Homo sapiens: one gene and its partners. The protein of the gene in region 4 purifies or fractionates together with the protein of the main gene of each other region. This does not show direct contact. Each region holds a gene or a part of one and is shown on either strand. Other genes may lie near its edges. The genes, in order: FBXO22, COA1, BUD23 and PHLPP1.

Region 1 (3,568 bases), on a different chromosome or scaffold from region 4:
ATAATAAGGGATACTAAAAACCTAATGTTAATCTAATAAATAAAGCTATTAAATTATAGACTGCAAATGCATTAATGACAAGAGAAAATGTTGATTTTAAAAGTGAAAACAGATTATGAAATTATATATTTAGTATCATCTGAATTATTAAAGACAAAAAAGGGAGAGTAGAAAAGAAAGCCAAAATGTTAGCTTTTTTTTCCATTTACTGTTTTTAAAAAGTTTTCTATGGTTTTTAAAAAGTTTTCAAATTTTTACCACAGCAGGCATGATTTTTCTATAGCTTTAAGAGTTTATACATTGTAGTGGCTGTTAATAGCCAGACAGACTTAGTTGTGAACCATAGCTTTGGCATATACCAGCGGTGTGACTTTGAAAAAGCTACTCAACCTCTCTGAGCCTCAGGTGCTATCTCCATAAAATAAAAAGAAAAATAATAATTTTCCTATGCCCTTATAGAGTTGTTGTGAGGATTAAATAATGAAAAGGTAATGCATATAAACATTACTTACAATACCAGGAGCATAAGTTCTCAATAGATGTCTATTAAATATTCTTTTATTAGTATCATTATTAAAGTTCACATAGTTATAGTAATGCCCTTAGAGGAGTTCCTCCATTGTAGTAAACTGCTGGTGAGACAAAAACATGAAAACTCTATCCAAATCATACGTGCTGTTTATTTGTGTTTTCCAAGTTATCTAGTGGACATGGGTACTTTTATAGCCATAAAGAAAGTTGATTTAACTTTTCTATTAGAAATATTTTAAAGTCCGCCAGGCATGGTGGCTCATGCCTATAATCCCAGCACTTTGGAAAGCCGAGGCAGGCAAATCACTTGAGGTCAGGAGTTAGAGAACAGCCTGGCCAACATGGTGAAACCCCGTCTCCACTAAAAAAATATAAATATTTAAAAATATCAAATATATAAATAAAAATATTAAAGTACAAAAGTTGGCTGGGCATGTTAGTGCAAACCTATAATCGCAGCTACTTGGGTAGCTGAGGTACCAGAATCGCTTGAACCAGGGAGATGGAGTTTGCTTGAGCTGAGATTGCACCACTTCACTCCAGCCTGGGTGATAAAGAGTGAGACTGTGTCTCAAAAAAAAAAAATTTTTTTAAAGTCCACCAAAAGCTTTATAAAACAGCTTGCCATTTGTAACTTCTTTGAACAGTGGAATGTGGTGTCAGCTGTCTTAACTGTGCTTTGAGAACATTTCATATTGAGGCTTGTTATGTCACTACTTCTAGTGTGAATTAGGAAGGAAAATTCAGCAGTTGCTTTTCAGTGGATGCCTCATAAACTCTCAGGACCAGACTTTTAATACTTGTTCAGGAGTAAGAAACCTGAGGCCTAAAAGCTTGCTGAGGGTTATTCTGCTGGTTTGTGGCAGAGTTGCCACTAAGACCTAAATCTGTTTTTTGTTTTGTTTGGTTTTTTTTTTTTTTGAGACAGAGTCTCGCCTGTCGCCCAGGCTGGATTGCAGTGGCCCGATCTTGGCTCAGTGCAACCTCCACCTTCCTAGTTCAAGTGATTGTCCTGCCTCAGCCTCCTGAGTAGTTGGGACTACAGGCGCATGCAGCCATACCCGGTTACTTTTTGTATTTTTAGTAGAGATGGGGTTTCACCATGTTGGACAGGCTGGTCTCACCCTGGCCTCAGGCAATCCACCCACCGTGGCCTCCCAAAGTGCTGATATTACAGGCGTGAGCCACTGTGCCTTGCCCGTAAATCTCTTTTTCTGTCTCCTTTACTCACTATACCAGGCATCACAGATTCAGATGACTCGAAGGTCAGGCAGGTAGCTGAAGAGGGTCAGGTAGCTCAATAGTCGTAGCACCATGGCAGTCTGGAAAGGCTTGCCTCCGTTTAGCCTTAGTTAAGAGGCACGTAGTCTAAGTGTTGCCAAAATGTCCAGTTTTTAAAAAGAATCTGGAAATCCACATTTTATGTAAAAATTCGGTGGAATTTTGAACATTGGCATTCAGTTTACATTTTCTGAAAATGCTGTGTGGACCAAGGAAACTATATCCGTAGGTCTTGGGCAGCCCTGGGCCCCACAGGCCATCATGCTATCTGTCTCTTTTATTAGTTTATCTATGTAGAATGTATTCTGAAACATCTTGGCATTCCCTCAAATTATAATGGACCAACTTTTTTTTTCCATTTAACTAACAATGAGGCTTTGCTATATCCTAAGTACTTCATTTTATTCTGGTAGTAAAAAATATTTGAAAATAGCTAGCTTGGAAAAATATATCATCCTTTTCATTTAATTCAGCTGCTTTGCCGCTTGTCTTCAATTGGAAAGTTTAGTTGAAAACAGGTGAGTCTGAATAAGCCCAGCTCATAGGGGAGATAGGGGACAAATAAGATTAACTAGGGGTAAGGGATGTTGCATCTGAGGTCCAGAGTACTGAGGGAGTTTAGGAAAAGGTTTTGGAGAGGAGGTGGCACTTAAGGTGTCTCTAGAGGGAAACAGTCTTAAGTTCCACAAGAACAGAGCAATAGAACATATGGGGAAGTCGGTGTGTCTGGATAATATTAATAGTAAGCTAAGGGGCCCTGAAGGAAGCCTTGCTGGCAAGCCTGGAAATGGAGGCTTGGAGTATTTGATTTGATAAGCAGTGAAAAGGGAGTGATACAGCCTGTATACCTTCCCCAGTGCTGAGATTTTTCTGATACTGTGATGCCTGTTCAAATAAAGCAAGTGCATCTTTTGCTGGTACTTGATGTTTTTGTTCTAAGAGCTTCAGTTATCATTATGAAAATGAACTTTTTGAGGGCTGGAATGAAGAAATTATAGGTGTTTAGTAAATGAACTGAAAATGAAAGAGCATGAGTGAAAAGTAAATGAGAAGTAGATTGACTCAGAATGCCAACATTGACCTGAAAGAAGGTAGGGTACCAGCAGTTTGGATGGGGTGATACTTTTTTTTTTTTTTAAATTTCTGCGATACATGTGCAGAACATGCAGGTTTGTTACATAGGTATACACGTGCCATGGTGGTTTGCTGCACCCATCAACCCGTCATCTACATTAGGTATTTCTCCTAATGCTATCCCTTCCCTAATCTCCCACTCCCTGACAGGCCCTGGTGTGTGATGTTCCCTTCCCTGTGTCCATGTGTTTTCATTGTTCAACTCCCACTTATGAATGAGAACATGCAGCATTTGGTTTTCTGTTCCTGTGTTAGTTTGCTGAAAATGATGGTTTCCAGCTTCATCCATGTCCCTGCAAAGGACATGAGTGCATCCTTTTTCTATGGCTGCATAGTGTTCCATGGTGTATCTGTGCCACATTTTCTTCATCCAGTCTATCACTGATGGGCATTTGAGTTGGTTTCAAGTCTTTGCTATTGTGAATAGTGCTGCAGTAAACATGCATATGCATGTGTCTTTATAGTAGAATGATTTATAATCCTTTGGGTATATACCCAGTAATGGGATTGCTGGGCCAAATGGTATTTCTCTTTCTAGATCCTTGAGGAATCACCACACTGTCTTCCACAATGGTTGAACTAATTTGCACTCCTACAAACAGTGTGAAAGTGTTCCTGTTTC
Region 2 (3,568 bases), on a different chromosome or scaffold from region 4:
CTGCCTCTGCTCCCTCCTTTGGGCAGCTGATTATTAGAACTTACAGCTTCAGGGAGGTGCTTCCCGGAGTTCCCAGGTAGCCTGTGGGCTCAGAAGGATTCCTGAGACTGAGAGCAGTTTGAGTTGAAATGTTGGCTTAAATCTTGATGAATGAACATTTTCATATCCTGTTTCTAGGCCTGAGGGTTTTGTTGTTAATGTTGTGGTCTTTCTATTTTATGTCTCAACTTAGTGGAACAGGCAGTGTTGAGAAGTCAGGTATCATGGATTCTGGCCTCGGCTTTGCCATGGACCAGCTGTGTCACTTTGAACAAGTCATGGAATCATAGTAGGACTTTAGAGCAAACTTAGAGACTTGAGAGGAAACTTAGAGAAGAGCTGACCAAACCTCTTAGGTGTCAAAATAAGGCAATGAGTGAGGGTAGAAATGAGGTGAAGCAGAAAGGGTCTGCATGAGGTCAAGGCCCAAGGTCATCTGCACATCCCTGCAAAACACTGCCTGCCTGTGCTTTGGTTTTTGAGTCTGTAAAATGGACAATTTAGAGTAGATGGCCTTAATTATTCGTCCATCCACAGATTTCACGTTTCTGTTTCTACCCTGTACGTCAGTTGGATTATTTAATTTTCTGTGTAGTAGATTCTACCTGACCAAGTTCAATAAAGAAAATAAGTGTGTCTTTCGTCCTTAGAGTTTCATTCCAGGGCTTTATATTACAAGTTGGCAGTGGAGCAGCTGCAGAGCCATCCCGAGGCACAGGAAGCTCTGGGCCCTCCTCTCAACATCCATTATCTCAAGCTCATCGACAGGGAAAACTTCGTGGACATTGTTGATGCCAAGGTAATGTGCTTTCCCTGCGAACCGCAGGCTGGTGCCTGCTGAAGGAGAGGAGAGTCTACTGTCTCCTGGAAAGTCCTGGAGTTAAGGATTTGGGATGGGAAAATCCACTAAGTAAAGCTAGGTTTGGCACCTTTAAAAAAAGTTTTTCTATTATGGATTTTAATGTTTATATAAAATATATTTTATATTATAGATATTTCTGTATACTTTTCTTCCATTCTGGGGAATTGATGTGGCAGGGAATGCAGTGGGTATGCTGATGTCGCCATCTTGAATTGAAGGTAGTAGAGAAATGACCAGTGGTGGTTTGCTACCATGTTGGCTTTGATAGCTCTCAGCACTTTGGGAGGCTGAGGTAAGAGGATTGCTTGAGCCCTGGGGTTTGAAACCAGCCTGGGCAACACAGCAAGACCCTGTCTCTCTCTCTCTCTCTCTCTCTCTCTCTCTCTCTGTCTCTCTGCCTGCCTGCCTGCCTGCCTGCCTGCCTGCCTATCTATCTATCTATCTATCTATCTATCTATCTATCTATCTATCTATCTAATCTATCTATCTATAATTTAGCCAGGCGTGATAGTGCACACCTATAATCCCAGCTACCCAGGAGGCTGAAGCAGGAGGATCGCTTGAACCCAGGAGTTGGAGGCTGCAATGAGTTATGATCATGTCACTGCACTCCATCCTGGGTGACAGAGTGAAATTGTCTGTAAAATTAAAAAAAAAAGAGAAATGCATCTATATCCAGTCAGTGCTCATTCAAATGTACCCAACTCTTTAAACTTTGATTTTTAAAGTGTATTTATTTACATTGCTTCCACAGAATACCAACCCATTTTTTTAGCTATAACTTATCTTTTTGTACTTGATCACACTCACTTGCATGTAAAACACATTTGTTCTGTTTAACAAACATATTTTGAGTATATGCTCTGGTTTGAGAAATGATTCTAAGCTATGTGGGGAATAGAGGTGCAGAAGGCTTTTGGGGGTTTACAGTTGAAAATTCCTGAGTAAGACAGGGTGAGGGAAACCCTGTCACTATTGTGCAGGCCTAGGGGAAGTGGCTCGAGGCCTGGGAGATGGCTGTGAGGACTTTGAAAGGTGGAGAGGAACACCCGGCTGAGGAGCAGCATGCCTGGGAAAGTTCATCACTGTGTCGCCTGTCAGTGTGATACGGCAGTGGAGGCACAGGTGGGCGAGGTGGGTGTGGGCAGGTAGGAGGGGCTGCGGCCACCAGGGGCCACAGTGTCATCTTGGAAGGTGTGTGCTTGACTCTGGCAGCAGAAGCCCGTAAAGTATTTGGAGGATGAGTGAGGTGATCCGACCTACATTATTTTTTGTTATTTTTAGTATGTTCTTAATGGACCCAGCTCTAATGAGACTTTTTTCTAACTACAAAAGCAATTCATGCTCTGGTATTCTGATTAAAATATTCGGTTTTAAAAGAAGGTGGATTTGTGTAGATTGGTAATGCCCAGGGACTGGCTACGGGGAGCCATCTTTAGGAGAGAGATGTGGCCACACTGGTGTGCAGTGGTGAGAGCATGAACCAGAGGTGTGGCCTGGAGAAGCAAAAGACGGATGTGAAGCCATCGTGGCATCCAAGTGACAGAACTTGGTAACAGTCATGTATCAGGAGCGGGTGGGTCAGAGGTGATGGTCCAGTGTCCAGCATGGACGTGAGTGGAAGGACGGCAGCGACACTGCGTGAGAGAGGACATCCTGGAGGAGGAGCACAGGGAAGGGCTGGGCATGTGTGGAGTGCTCACTCTGTGCCAGGCCACCGGATTGCTCCCATGGTGTGGCGGAGCCTGTCTGTTGCTTCCTTGCCTTTGGTCACTTGGCTAGACCCCAGCAATCCTGAGAACTTGGAAAAGCCACTGGGTAGGTCTGGCTGTTGCGTTTCTCTCAGCACAGAGCCCAGCTGTAGCACTGAGGAATTGTGTGCCAAAGGCGCCTTTGCTGGGGCTGGTTGATGCAGCATCCATGATCTGGTGCTCCAGGAACCCCAGTGAGAGTAGGGTAAGGCCATGGTGGTTTTGGTGGGAGCTTTGTCCTGTCCAGCTTTCACTTTGGCCCCAGTGGTGCTGAGAGGGCGCCTTCCTGGGCTTCCCCACATCCCTGGGGCCTTGGCCATGCTGTGACTATGTTGGTTGTGGTGCTAGGTTCTGGCTTCTACTGCGGCCAAATGCTGTGACTCTGCAGTGACAGGAGTTCAGAGTCTGCTGCATCATGGCCACCTGGAGCCTCAGTGCACGCCTTCCAATTTGTGGACTATTTTTGACATTCTGTCAGGGTCCTTTCTTTATAATCAGCGGTTTGTGAGGATGCCTGTATACAGCATATGCCCTCTTATCCCAAATTCCTTTATTTGCAATTTTTACAGTTTTTCCAGAGGTGAGATGTTTCAGTTGTTCATGAAGTAATTGTCATACATTGGGATTTTTTCCCAAGTATGTGTGTGAGATAGTCACCAGTGACCAACACTTTGCTTTACCAGAACTCCTGCTTTAATCTTTGGCAAGGTCTGGCTGGTGAAGGAACCAACCTGTAAAGTGTCACATCTACCCATGGAAGCACAGCTGCCCACAGTTCAGACATTGGCCCCTCAGAGTTTGCTCTTCTTCAGAATCCTTCTTGCTTCTGCCCATTTCTTTCTCCTTCCTTTTTAAATTTTTTTTTAAAGCATCCAGAGATGCTCAGTGTATACTCTGTTGCTTAATTCTATAATTT
Region 3 (3,568 bases), on a different chromosome or scaffold from region 4:
CTTGCTCTGTTGTCCAGGCTGGAGTACAGTGGCACAAGGCTTACTGCAACCTCTGCCTCCCAGGTTCAAGTGATTCTTCTGCCTCAGCCACCTGAGCAGCTGGTATTCAAGGCACATGCCACCAAGCCCAGCTAATTTTTGTATTTTTAGTAGAGACGGGGTTTCACCGTGTTGGTCAGGCTGGTCTCGAACTCCTGACCTCAAGTGATCCACCCATCTCAGCCTCCCAAAATGCTGGGATTACGGGTATGAGCCAATGCACCTGGCTGCTTGAGGTTTTAAATCTGGGGGTTGTAAAGACACTTAACAGGTAGAGTGGAAGGGAGTGATTTAGGAGGAAGGGTGATGGGATGGCTGTGTGTATGTGAGTAGTCTAAAGCCTGTTTCCTTGGATTGGAGGAAGGGAACAAGGAGGGGTGTGTGGGCAGACAGCCTTGACACGGAGGACTTTTCAACTCAAGATGCAGATGGAAACAAGGTGGAGGAAAGGTTTCTTGGGACTATGGGACATAAATGCTGTCCTTCTGTATGTCCTATTTTTCCAGTGTTGTAGAGTCATGACCTGCAGTGGACCTGCACTTTTTTTGTCTTTAAATTTTTAAATTTAAAAATACTTTAAGTAAAGATGGGGTCTTGCTATGTTGTCCAGGCTGGTTTGAAGTCCTGGCCTCAGGCAATTCTGTCTTGGCCTCAGAAAGTGCTGGGATTACAGGGCGTTGAACCACTGTACGTGGCCTCAACCTGCACTTTCTAAGAAGGGAAGCTGTGGGAGGAGGGGTTTCTCTTGGAGAGCCAGGACGGATGATGTCAAGAGGCTTGAAGTGGTTGGGGGAGCAACGTGGATTGCTCCGTTGCCTGACTAGGTCCCTTCCTTTTTAGCATTTCTGCTGTGCAGTGGCTCTGTAATGCTAACAAGAAGTCTGAAAACCCTGCCAAGCGCCTGTACTGCTTTTTTGCTTCTCTTTTTTCTGTTCTCGTGAGTATAAGATCTTCTCCCCATCTGGGTTAGCTGCCTGTCCCTCCCTAGCACTGCAGGTAGAGTGAGGAAATTGAGGTGTCCCATGATGGGTAAGCTACTCATATGGGACCGCATGGGGTGGCAGGACCTTACTGTGGTTACTTCTGTCCAGGTCCTCAGCCTAAATGGAAGTTCAAGCTCAGTGGACTGATATACTCTAATCAAACCCAGAAGTCACTGATACCAAAATCGGAGACCAATTTATTAACTTGTAATAGGGCCTACTTCTGTTGATTGGTATTCCTATGTCTATTGCGCTGAGTTTTAATCAGAAGTTGGTTTGGGGGCATGGACTGAGCAGAGTGAGGACAGAGATGTCGTGTCCGGACCATCCAGAGGGGTACCTTCCAAAGTGCCCACATCCTTCTGACTCCTCACTTATCCCTCCTCCTAGTGCTGATCCTTTTCTTCGGATGAGGAACAGGATAGTTATTTACTGCAAAGAGAGCCTTTATTAGCTTTGTCTTCAAATTAATGATGTTAATTTCAGTTGTTCACTAGGATTAGCTGATAGTCTGAGATTTTAAGTCCTAAAAATGAGTTCTTTTTAAATTTTGTTTTTTGAGACAGACTTTTGCTTTGTTGCCTGGGATGGAGTGCAATGGTGTGATCGTAGCTCACTGCGCCCTCGAACTCCTGGGCTCAAGTGATCCTCCTGCTTCAGCTTCTCAAGTAGTTTGGACTACAGGCACACACCACCATGCCAGGCTAATTTTTTACTTTTTTTTTTTTAAGAGATGGGGTCTACCTATGTTGCCCAGGCTGGTGTTAAACTCCTGGCTTCAAGCAATTGTCTGGCATCAGGCTCCCAAAGTGATGGGATTATAGGCGTAAGCCACTGTGCCCAGCTTAAAAATGAGTCCGTTTTGAAGGATCTGAGTGGTTTTTGCCTCCTTAGCCTGGTCTAGCCCACCCCTAGTTTTCCTGGGGTGGACTGCACCTGCCGATCTGGCCACTGGTCTTTCTTGGGGTGAACTGCCCCTGCTGATGTGGCCGCTGGTCTTTCCTGGGGTGAACTGCCCCTGCTGATGTGGCCGCTGGCCTTTCCTGGGGTGGACTGCGCCTGCCTATCTGGCCGCTGGTCTTGTGTGTCACATGAGTTCTCCTCCTGGCACACTGGGTTAATATTTTAGTTCTGAGGTCCTTTGTGTTTCCTCTTCTCCCTGCTGGAAGGCTCCTCCCTTATATGTTTAAATAGCCAGCTCCTCACTCCATTCAAATCTCTGCTCAAGTATCCATTTGAAACAGGCCTTTTTGGAACCAAAAGTAAACTGAACTGAAAGGAAACTCTGTCACTTTGTCTAATTCCTCTTTTTGTAACAAAGAAAAAATTTGCTACTGTGAATTAGTTGCCTCCTTTACTAAAATGTGAGCTCCAAAGTTCAGGGTGATCTCTTTTGTTCATACTATCCCCAGCCCTAACAATGCCTCACACATAATGGAAATTCAGGAAATACTTGGTGAATGAAGGAAGAGAGGGGTGTCCAGGCCCTAAGCTCATGCAGTCATTTGTAAGACAGTGATGTTCCTGTTTCTTTCAGGTCCGGGGATCCCGAGCTGTCCTGCAGCTGTACCCTGAGAACTCAGAGCAGGTGAGTCCCTCGGCTACTGGGTGTGCCGGGGAGTTGGGGGACTCAACAGGTAAGCTGTCCTGGGGAAGCGACAAAGAATCTTATGCAGATTGGCGGGAAAAGGAGGAAACATGCACCCTAGTGTGGCCCCTGATGGCACATTTGATGACCTGATATCCTAAGGGGGTGGCATCTGCGGAGGTGGGGTGGGATGCCTTCTCTTGGCAGATGACATGGTATTACAGATAAGGTGATGCGACTGATTTCCATAACCAAATAAGTAAATGCCATTTAGGAAGGGTGAGAGGGCACCGACAGTTCTCCGTTGTGTGATGTATAAATTAAGGAATGGCGGAGTAGGATGTAGATGTTGAAAGATAAGTGAAGAGCTGTTCCTGACTAATAACATGAATGACTCTGGATTCCAATTGGTGGCCATCTCCCTAAACTTGAGTGGGGAGCTGGGTCCCTGCACTGGAAAGTGAGAATGAGGGGAGTTGCTTTGTTCTGTAATTCTCCTGAGGGAGGTGTGGGCCATGCCAGATTCTAGCCTGTACTTTTCTCTACGTGGCTTACAGCGACCTTAAGTTCTCCCAGGCAGGATTTGTCCTGGAGCAGACTGGCTTCTGAAGGAGGGGAGGGAGGTGAAGCTGTCTGCTCCTCTCAACCTCCGCTGCCTGACCCGCTGCCTTTCTTTCCTCAGTTGGAGCTGATCACAACCCAGGCCACAAAGGCAGGCTTCTCCGGTGGCATGGTGGTAGACTACCCTAACAGTGCCAAAGCAAAGAAGTGAGCGCTGGGGGCCGGTGTGCTGCCTGGGCTGCAGGAGGGAGGGTAGTGGCATAGCCCTTTCAGGCCACTCAGTGGTGCAGAGGAGTGCTGGGGTGTGGGTCACCAGGGTCCAGGCAGGCGGAGGGGGTGCGGGTGGGGGAGCTGAGGGCTTGTCTCCCTGTGGGGCTTTCTCCACCCAACCCTCACT
Region 4 (3,461 bases):
AAATAGCATGCACACAGCTGAACTAAAGCCAGCAGATCTTGCCTTCTCCATTGGTCAACAGGAAATCAAGTTCAAGGAAGTTGTAAGAATTGGCATTTCTTCTTTAGCATCTGTTCTCCTGACATGAGCATTCTTACCCACCTAGTCAAACCAAGGTTTTCTCCACCGCTTAAGTACTTTCAAGTCCTCTCTGGACCTTTAGACACTACTGCCTCTTGTGATCATGGAGAGCAATGGAAGATTTAGGAGCATTGTCTTGATATATGCCTGCGTCATGTGTCTTTGCTCAGGACTGGCTTCTATCAGAAAGTCTCTTGCTACCTCAGAGTCTTCCTACACCCAGCCCGTCTGAGGGCCGATCCTTGATCACCATGTTCACCAAGGGAGGGAAGATGTAAACCCATGTTTACAGGAGGAGCTAGCCAGCTATGCTTGCTGTGTAAGGCTAGATGATGGCTTGCTTTAGATAAACAGCAGGACTTGTGACCTAGTGTGAATGGGGTCCCAGTAACACACATAACCGAAATCTTTTCCTTTTGTCCCTACTGCTCCTTACCTGCCCAGGCCTACTACCTGGGGTTTCTGATGACAGGTGCACATTAACTACTCACTACAGAGTGAGCCCTTCTTTCCTCTGTGGGCCACACAGCACTTCTCTGTGGTCCTACAGTCGAGACAGTCGAGGGACCCGCAGGGAACCTGCACAGTTGCCGCAGGTGCTCTGTATTAACTGTCTGTCTGCAAACCCTTGTTCTTCCAGGATGGCAAGGTGAACGGAGTGACTGAGTCCACGCGCATCCTGGGCTACACCTTCCTCCATCCCAGTGTGGTGCCTCGCCCCCACGTGCAGTCCGTGCTCCTGACTCCCCAGGATGAGTTCTTCATCCTAGGCAGTAAGGGGTTGTGGGACAGCCTGTCCGTCGAGGAGGCCGTGGAAGCCGTGCGCAACGTGCCCGATGCCCTGGCTGCTGCCAAGAAGCTGTGTACCCTGGCCCAGAGCTACGGCTGCCACGACAGCATCAGCGCTGTGGTGGTGCAGCTCAGTGTCACTGAGGACAGCTTCTGCTGCTGCGAGCTCAGCGCCGGTGGGGCTGTGCCACCACCCAGTCCTGGCATCTTTCCTCCCTCAGTGAACATGGTGATCAAGGATCGGCCCTCAGATGGGCTGGGCGTGCCGTCCTCCAGCAGCGGCATGGCTTCCGAGATTAGCAGTGAGCTCTCCACTTCTGAGATGAGCAGCGAGGTGGGGTCAACAGCCTCCGATGAGCCCCCGCCCGGAGCCCTAAGCGAGAACAGCCCTGCCTACCCCAGTGAGCAGCGCTGCATGCTCCACCCCATCTGTCTGTCCAACTCCTTCCAGCGCCAGCTATCCAGCGCCACGTTCTCTAGCGCCTTCTCCGACAACGGCCTTGACAGTGACGATGAGGAGCCCATCGAGGGCGTCTTCACCAACGGCAGCCGGGTGGAGGTGGAGGTGGACATCCACTGCAGCCGGGCCAAGGAGAAGGAGAAACAGCAGCACCTGCTTCAGGTGCCAGCAGAGGCCAGTGATGAGGGCATTGTCATCAGCGCCAACGAGGATGAGCCAGGTCTGCCCAGGAAGGCAGACTTCTCTGCCGTTGGGACCATTGGGCGCCGGAGGGCCAATGGCTCTGTTGCGCCCCAGGAAAGGAGCCACAATGTGATAGAGGTGGCTACAGACGCACCTCTTCGAAAGCCTGGAGGCTATTTTGCTGCCCCGGCTCAGCCGGATCCTGATGATCAGTTTATCATACCCCCGGAGCTGGAAGAGGAGGTCAAAGAAATCATGAAGCATCACCAGGAGCAACAGCAGCAGCAGCAGCCGCCACCACCCCCTCAGCTCCAGCCGCAGCTGCCGCGGCACTACCAGCTGGACCAGCTGCCAGATTATTACGACACGCCACTATGACCCAGCCGAGCTGTTTAACAAATAAACTAACCACAAAAGACTGAGTTGCAAGAGTCTCCCAGGCTCACATTAAACCAGGGGTTTTACTCCACATCCTTCCCCCAGACACTGTTCCCAACCTGTCATCGCAGCTAATCTGTAGGTTCTCTTTCTTTGGGTTATTTTTTTAAGTAATCACCACTTTCTTCTAGTGATGCTTTACCAATATGATTTACATTTGTTAACTTCTCCCCCTAACATATCAGATATGTAAAGACAAAGAACAAAAGGTTTAATATATTACAGAGAAACAGTTAATGATAATGTAATATTTTTTAAAATGGCTTTTTGTTGTTTGTTTGGAAGGCAGGGCAGGCTGCCGTTGCTAAATGATTTAATAATATTGTAATTCTGTATTTCTTTGGGGGGAAAAGGCTTTTGTTTTGTTTTGTTTTGTTTTGTTTTGTTTTTGTCTTGAAAATAATAGACATTTGTAGAATATGGAGACTAACTCCTAGGAGTTGCTTTACTCTGTCAGGTGACTTAAGTCACTGGGATTCACTAATTTTCTCTGAGAGAACAGCTGATTGAGAATTTCCATTGTAAATAGCTCAGTGTTGTATAGTGAGGCTTACGATGTTTTGTAGTCTTGGCGTAAGGACACAGCCCAAGTAACTGACGTTTCCCCTCCCCCTCCCCTCTGAGGAGCCTGCCTGCCTCACAACTCACCCTCACTTCACTGAATGAGGAGGCTGAGCAGCTGCAGTGTTTCTGTCCGGAGGAAATGGATCTTAGGCCACTGGACAAGAACCTGCACCCAAGGGCCCTGAACCCATTTTCCTCCCCTGTCCCAGCCTTCCCACTTTGACAGACACTTTTAACTGTGTTCCTTACTGCTGCCACAATCAGCATGGTTGTATAGTGCCCCATTAGGCCATTTACATACCCAGAGTTATACTCAAGCAGAATGCACAAATGGACATGTCATAATTTTTGTTACAATAAATATGAAATTTACAAGTATTTACAAGTATCTGCTTTTGTCTCAGCAGCCAGATGTTTCTTGGAGACAGTCACACTAGCTTGCGTTTAGAAAGAATGGATGGAATATTGGGGTTATCAGATATTTCTGATTTTTTTTTTAAGAGAAAAACATCCAGTAAGTTAACCTACATTGAATGAAATGTGAAATTAACCAAATGGTAAGCAGTATAATTAGCTGATCTTACAGCTTTTCTTTTCTTTTCTTTTCTTTTTTTTTTTTTTTTGAAATGGAGTCTCGCTCTGTCTCCCAGGCTGGAGTGCAGTGGTGTGTTCTCTGCCCACTGCAACCTCCGCCTCCCGGGTTCAAGTGATTCTCCTGCCTCAGCCTCTGAATAGCTGGCATTACAGGCACCCGCCACCATGCCCAGCCAATTTTTGTATTTTTAGTAAAGATGGGGTTTCACCATGTTGGCCAGGCTGGTCTCATACTCCTAACCTCAAGTGATCTGCCCACCTCAGCCTCCCAAAGTGCTAGGATTACAGGTGTGAGCCACTGTGCCAGGCCTGA

What was found.
Region 1: the proteins of PHLPP1 (region 4) and FBXO22 purify together in Homo sapiens (affinity purification with western blotting; one study listed by BioGRID). This does not show direct contact.
Region 2: the proteins of PHLPP1 (region 4) and COA1 purify together in Homo sapiens (affinity purification with mass spectrometry, with the first as the bait; one large-scale study listed by BioGRID). This does not show direct contact.
Region 3: the proteins of PHLPP1 (region 4) and BUD23 fractionate together in Homo sapiens (co-fractionation; one large-scale study listed by BioGRID). This does not show direct contact.

Annotation. Positions count from the first base shown.
Region 1 is NC_000015.10:75,906,840-75,910,407, forward strand, and holds part of FBXO22 (F-box only protein 22), read left to right. Parts: intron 1-3,568. UniProt on the Homo sapiens protein: Substrate-recognition component of the SCF (SKP1-CUL1-F-box protein)-type E3 ubiquitin ligase complex that is implicated in the control of various cellular processes such as cell cycle control, transcriptional regulation, DNA damage repair, and apoptosis.
Region 2 is NC_000007.14:43,642,521-43,646,088, reverse strand, and holds part of COA1 (cytochrome c oxidase assembly factor 1 homolog), read left to right. Parts: intron 1-689; coding exon 690-838; exon of another isoform or gene 839-843; intron 844-3,568. UniProt on the Homo sapiens protein: Component of the MITRAC (mitochondrial translation regulation assembly intermediate of cytochrome c oxidase complex) complex, that regulates cytochrome c oxidase assembly.
Region 3 is NC_000007.14:73,690,037-73,693,604, forward strand, and holds part of BUD23 (18S rRNA (guanine-N(7))-methyltransferase), read left to right. Parts: intron 1-879; coding exon 880-976; intron 977-2,559; coding exon 2,560-2,610; intron 2,611-3,292; coding exon 3,293-3,378; intron 3,379-3,568.
Region 4 is NC_000018.10:62,977,502-62,980,962, forward strand, and holds the end of PHLPP1 (PH domain leucine-rich repeat-containing protein phosphatase 1), read left to right. Parts: intron 1-760; coding exon 761-1,930; 3' UTR 1,931-2,932; downstream 2,933-3,461. UniProt on the Homo sapiens protein: Protein phosphatase involved in regulation of Akt and PKC signaling.